2 separate regions of the Homo sapiens genome follow, and region 1 is linked to region 2. Evidence: fine-mapped expression QTL. A gene starts in region 2. The other region holds a variant in brackets. All regions are shown on one strand. Distances are from middle to middle.

Region 1 (2,920 bases), 53 kb after region 2:
GAGAGAGATAAGGAAGCTGCAGAAGAAAAGTTGGAAGCCAGCAGAGGCTGGTTCATGAGGTTCAAGGAAAGAAGCTATCTTCATAACATAAAAGTGCAAGGTGAAGTGGCAAGTGCTGATGTAAAAGTTGCAAAAAGTTATCTAGAAAATCTAGCTAAGATAATCGATGAAAGTGGCTACACAAAACAACAAATTTTCAATGCAGACAAAACAGCCTTATATTGGAATAAGACGCCATCTAGGACTTTCACAGATAGAGAGAAGTCAATGCCTGGCTTCAATGACTTAAAGGACAGGCTGACTTTCTTGTTAGAGGCTAATGCAGCTGGTGATTTTAATTCGAAGCCAATTCTTATTGACCATTCCGAAAATCCTTGGGCCCTTAAGAATTATGCCAAATCTATGCTGCCTGTGCTCTAGAAATGAAACAACAAAGCCTGGATGATAACACATTTGTTTACAGCATAATTTACTGAATATTTTAAGCCCACTACTGAGACCTACTGCTCAGAAAAAAAGATTCCTTTCAAAATATTATGGCTCATTGACAATGTACCTAGTCACCCAAGAGCCCTGATGAAGATATACAAGGAGGTTAATGTTGTTTTCATGCCTGCTAACACAGCATTCATTCTGTAGCCCATAGATCACGGTGTAACTTTGACTTTCAAGTCTTACTATTTAAGAAATACATTTCATAAGGCTATAGCTGCTGTAGATATTGATTCCTCTCATGGATCTGAGCAAAGAAAATTGAAAACCTCTGGAAAGGATTCACCATTCTAGATGCCATTAAGAACTTTCATGGTTTATGGGAGGAGGTCAAAATATCAACATTTACAGGAGTTTGGAAGAAGTTGATTCGAACTCTCATGGATAACTTTGAGGGGTTCAAGACTTCAGTGGAGAAAGTCACTGCAGATGTGGTGGAAATAGCAAGAGAACTAGAATTAGAAGTGTAGCCTGAAGATGTGGCAGAATTGCTGCAATCTCTTGATAAATCTTGAATGGATGAGGAGTTGTTTCTTTTTTAAAAATTATTATTATACATTAAGTTCTAGGGTACATCTGCACAACATGCAGGTTTGTTACATAGGCATACATGTGC[C/T]ATGTTGGTTTGCTGCACCCATCAACTCATCATTTACATTAGGTATTTCTCCTAATGCTATCCCTCCCCCAGCTCCCCATCACCTGACTGGCCCCAGTGTGTGATGATCCCTTCCCTGTGTCCATGTGTTATCATTGTGCAACTCCCACCTATGAGTGAGAACATGCGGTGTTTGGTTTTCTGTCCTTGTGATAGTTTGCTGAGAATGAGAGTTTCCAACTTCGTCCATTAACCTGCAAAGGACATGAACTCATCCATTTTTATGGCTGCATAGTATTCAATGGTGTATATGTGCCACATTTTCTTAATCCAATCTATCACTGATGGACATTTGGGTTGGTTCCAAGTCTTTGCTATTGTGAATAGTGCCACAATAAACATATGTGTGCATGTGTCTTTATCATAGAATGATTTACAATCCTTTGGGTATATGCCCAGTAATGGGATTGCTGGGTTAAATGGTATTTCTAGTTCTAGATCCTTGCCACACTGTCTTCCACAATGGTTGAACTAATTTTCACTCCCACCAACAGTGTAAAAGCATTCCTATTTCTCCACATCCTCTCCAGCATCTGTTGCTTCCTGACTTTTTAATGATCTCCATTCTAACTGGCATGAGATGGTAACTCATTGTTTTTGATTTGCATTTCTCTGATGACCAGTGATGATGAGCATTTTTTCATATGTCTGTTGGCTGCATAAATGTCTTCTTTTGAGAAGTGTCTGTTCATATCCTTTGCCCACTTTTTGATGGGGTTGTTTTTTCTTGTAAATTTGTTTAAGGTCTTTGTAGATTCTGGATATTAGCCCTTTGTCAGGTGGGTAGATTGCAAAAATTTTCTCCCATTCTGTAGGTTGCCTGTTCACTCCGATGATAGTTTATTTTGCTGTGCAGAAGCTCTTTAGTTTAATTAGATCCCATTTGTCAATTTTGGCTTTTGTTGCCATTGCCTTTGGTGTTTTAGTCATGAAGTCTTTGCCCATGCCTATGTCCTGAATGGTATTGCCTAGGTTTTCTTCTAGGGTTTTTATGGTGTTAGGTCTTACATTTAAATCTTTAATCCGTCTTGAGTTAAATTTTGTATACAGTGTAATGAAGGGATCCAGTTTCAGCTTTCTACATATGGCTAGCCAGTTTTCCGAGCACCATTTATTAAATAGGGAATCTTTTCCCCATTTCTTGTTTTTGTCACATTTGTGAAAGATCAGATAGTTGTAGATATGTGGCATTATTTCTGAGGGCTCTGTTTGGTTCCTTTGGTTTATATATCTGTTTTGGTACCAGTACCATGCTGTTTTGGTTACTGTAACCTTGCAGTATAGTTTGAAGTCAGGTAGCGTGATGCCTCCAGCTTTGTTCTTTTTGCTTAGGAGTGTCTTGGCTATGCGGGCTCCTTTTTGGTTCCATATGAACTTTAAAGTAGTTTTTTCCAATTCTGTGAAGAAAGTCACTGGTAGCTTGATGGGGATAGCATTGAATCTATAAATTACTTTGGGCAGTAAGGCTATTTTCACAATATTGGTTCTTCCTATCCATGAGCATGGGGGAGTGGTTTCTTATGGATGAGCAAAGTAGCTTCTTGAGATGGCATCTACTCTTGGTGAAGGTGCTGTGAATAGTGTTGAAATGACAACAAAGGATTTAGAATATTACATAAATTTAGTTGATAAAACAGTGTCAGGGTTTGAAAGCACTGACTCCAATTTTGAAAGAAGTTCTACTGTAGGTAAATGCTATTAAACAGCATCACATGCCACAGAGAAATCTTTCATGAAAGGAAGAGTCAATTGATGTGGCCAACTTCATTGCTG
Region 2 (2,920 bases):
TACAATGAAGAAAAAGAAGTTGAACCTTTGAAAATAGTACATTTTAGTATGATGATGGAGAGAAGAGAGGCAGAAAAGCAAATTCGCATCAGTTCAGTTGCCATGGAGTGGAATGATGCTCAAAATCAGTAGTGCAGATTGCTCGGAGGCAAGTCTTGAAAGGGATGTGTACTGCAGGGATCGATAGGGGAAGAGCAACTGGGGAGGGCTAGGCACTGGATGAGAGTGGCACTGTTGGAAGTCTGTACAGGGGAGGAGCCATGGTTGGACCTGTGGGGAAAGCCCATCTTGTGGCGACACACTGGTAAGGGCTACTCAACTCACTGTTGAATGCTGGCACAATAATTGGAAATATTGCACTGAAGAATTGGGCGCGGCTATATTTATGTAAAATTCAACACGGATGAGAAATGATTGAATGTTTGAGTGTGTTTCCAATACAACCCAATACTTGGCGTTGGTGCTGGTGGTGGGTGCTTCGTAGCGCGGAAACCCTCTGACGCACTGGATTCATTTTGCAGAGCTAACAAGTTATCAGCTACATCCATGCCGACTCCAAATGCCACAGCTGTCATGCCACTGAAACGCTATTCCTACATTCATGCCCACATTTATATCCTATATGCAACTCAAAGGGTCCAATGTGGAGTCCCACATCTAACCTTTCACTGCTCACAACGACAGCTCTAGGGCTATAAGCCCAAAGGCACACTAGATAGCAATCTGGCATCGTCCCCAGGACACTTCTTCCTCAGTAGACTGCCCAGGGACAGATAGGTAGATAAGGTTTGGATGACATCAAGCGAGCTGAACACAAGGAAAAAAAGCTTCCTTGGGAGACAAGAATGCTGGCATCTCTACGACAGGGGCACTGTTAGCATTACGGACCTAGAAAGTGAGATGTCACACATAGTCCCAACTACCTCCGACCCAGGTCCTCTCACCTCACCCCCAGCTCTTAGAGCTAGTCGGCTGTGGCGCATGCGCACTGAGCCACACCCGCTCCCCACGGAGCCCTGCGCCTCTCTGCTCGGCTCTGGCAGCAGCTCGGGATTACTCAGCAACGCCCCCCTGCACTGTCACCTGCCCCCGACTCCGACCTCGGGAGCGGCTCAGTCCCTTTTCTCAAGCTACGAGTGGTCCTGGGGATCAACTAGACTTTCCTTTCTCCCTCTTCTCACAGGCCCCCCACCTCCCGGCCTTCCGGGTCCTCCAGCCCCTAGCCCCTGTTCCTGCCCACGCACAGGCACCTTACCCAACACAATGGGAAGGAAACAGGAGAGGGCCGCGGGTGCCAGGCAGGTCAGCTCTGCGTGCCGGGAATCCGGCTCCTTAGAGTCACCGTCACTGCTCCTGCTGCCTCCTCGTCCTCAATGGGGCAGCAAGTGCGGCTTGGACCTCGGTGGCCTGACAGCTGCCGCTCGCGCCCGCCGCTGCCGCCGCGCAGCGTCTCGAGCCCGCGCCCGCGCCCGCCAGGGGAGGGGGCGGGGCCCGCGCCGCCTCCTCGTGCCCCTTTCTCGGCGGTGGGGACCCGGTGTAGCCGCCTCCCGCCCTCCATGTGGCAAGCGCTCCCTGGCTCGCCCACTCTTCTTTCATGCTCATCGTCCAACCCTGGTCTCCCTTGTCCTCCTTCTCCTCCCCTAGCCGATTAGTAGGCACAGCGGCAATAGACCGTCAAATATTGCTCTTCCACTTAGCTCCTCTGCAGCCTGGGCCTAAGCCCTCAAGCAGGGCTAGCCACTGCCCCACTTCCTGCAATTATCCTCTGATCTACCTCATTTATCCTAGCTCAAAATCCTTTAATTTTGCCAAGAGGGTAGTACATACACCCTCTTGTTTCAAATAACTCAGGAAAACACATGATCACAACACATTGCTAGGCCCTCTAACTGGCTACAGCTTATGAAATTTTCAGGCAATTAAAAAAAATGTCCACATCTGTAGCGCAGGCATAGAGGACACACTGCCCTTTACTCTTACCAGATACAGTTCTAGAGGGCCACACAGGGGGCATTACTTGAATTTCCCGGAATTGCTGCTGGGGCAGAATTTGATGTTTTAATTGTGCCTAGCCGACCAGCTAGTCTCTTTTTGTTGTTTTCTGTAGCCCTCTGGTACTTCCAACTAGTTTGTGATTTTCCCCCTGGAATTGAAGAAGGACAAAGCTCCTGAGGTCATTTAGCCTGCACTCCACCTCTCTGTCAGGCAGCTCCATCTCTGAAGCTTCCCCATTGCCCGAAACCCTGTGACCTTGTGGCACAGGCCCTCACTCATCTCATGACCCCGTCCAGGCCCTCACACATACCCGCTACTTCCATCTAGGCCACTCTTCCTCTGTCTCTTGACAAGGCAATCGTGCAATCAATCTCCGCAGGCCCCAGCTTAAATGTCACTTCTCAGGATAACCTTTCTCGATAATCTCAGAATAGAGATGGTGCCCCAGTTTATACTCTTGTAGCCTCCTGTAACTTGCTGTATTTTTCCTTCATAACACTTACCCATTTTTGGTGGTACATTTAAGTGTATGATTATTTGGTTGACAGCTGTCTTCCCTACTAAACTATAGTGGGGAAGGACTATGAGGTCAAGGACAACGTTTGTGTTCACCACCGTATGCACAGAGCCTAGGGCAATGCTTGCTGCATAGGACATGCTCAGAAAATATTTGCTGAATATGAATGAATGCTGTATCACTAATAGTTGTTATATTTAAATAAAATAAATTGATGTAACTGAATCTCATGTGCTCCTATTTAAACCAACCCCGTTCCCCACACATACACTCTAAAACACTCTTCTGATGAAGACGAGATTCACACAATCCTCTAAATCAAATTTTCCGCATACATTTTAGTCTATTAAAAAACTATTGAGCATGGGCCCCAACATATGTATAAGGATTTATAGATTATATACATGT

Which allele goes with the higher level. Positions count from the first base shown, and alleles are read on the strand shown. Sizes are in standard deviations (SD) of each study's normalised expression.
In carriers of allele T in region 1, the expression in lymphoblastoid cells of the gene that starts at base 1,453 in region 2 tends to be lower than with C alone (moderate effect, 0.42 SD a copy in GTEx).

The links.
Region 1: its variant is fine-mapped to the expression of RAB9B in lymphoblastoid cells (GTEx, PIP above 0.99).

Annotation. Positions count from the first base shown.
Region 1 is chrX:103,883,896-103,886,815 of GRCh38, forward strand. The region is part of intron 4 of TMSB15B-AS1 (TMSB15B antisense RNA 1); the gene reads right to left. Among named protein-coding and RNA genes, the nearest start is that of TMSB15B-AS1, 34 kb to the right of the region's middle. The variant C/T (reference allele first, on the strand shown) is at 1,109.
Region 2 is chrX:103,830,805-103,833,724 of GRCh38, forward strand. RAB9B (RAB9B, member RAS oncogene family) reads right to left here and starts at 1,453. Exons shown (of 3, transcript NM_016370.4): 1 at 1,256-1,453.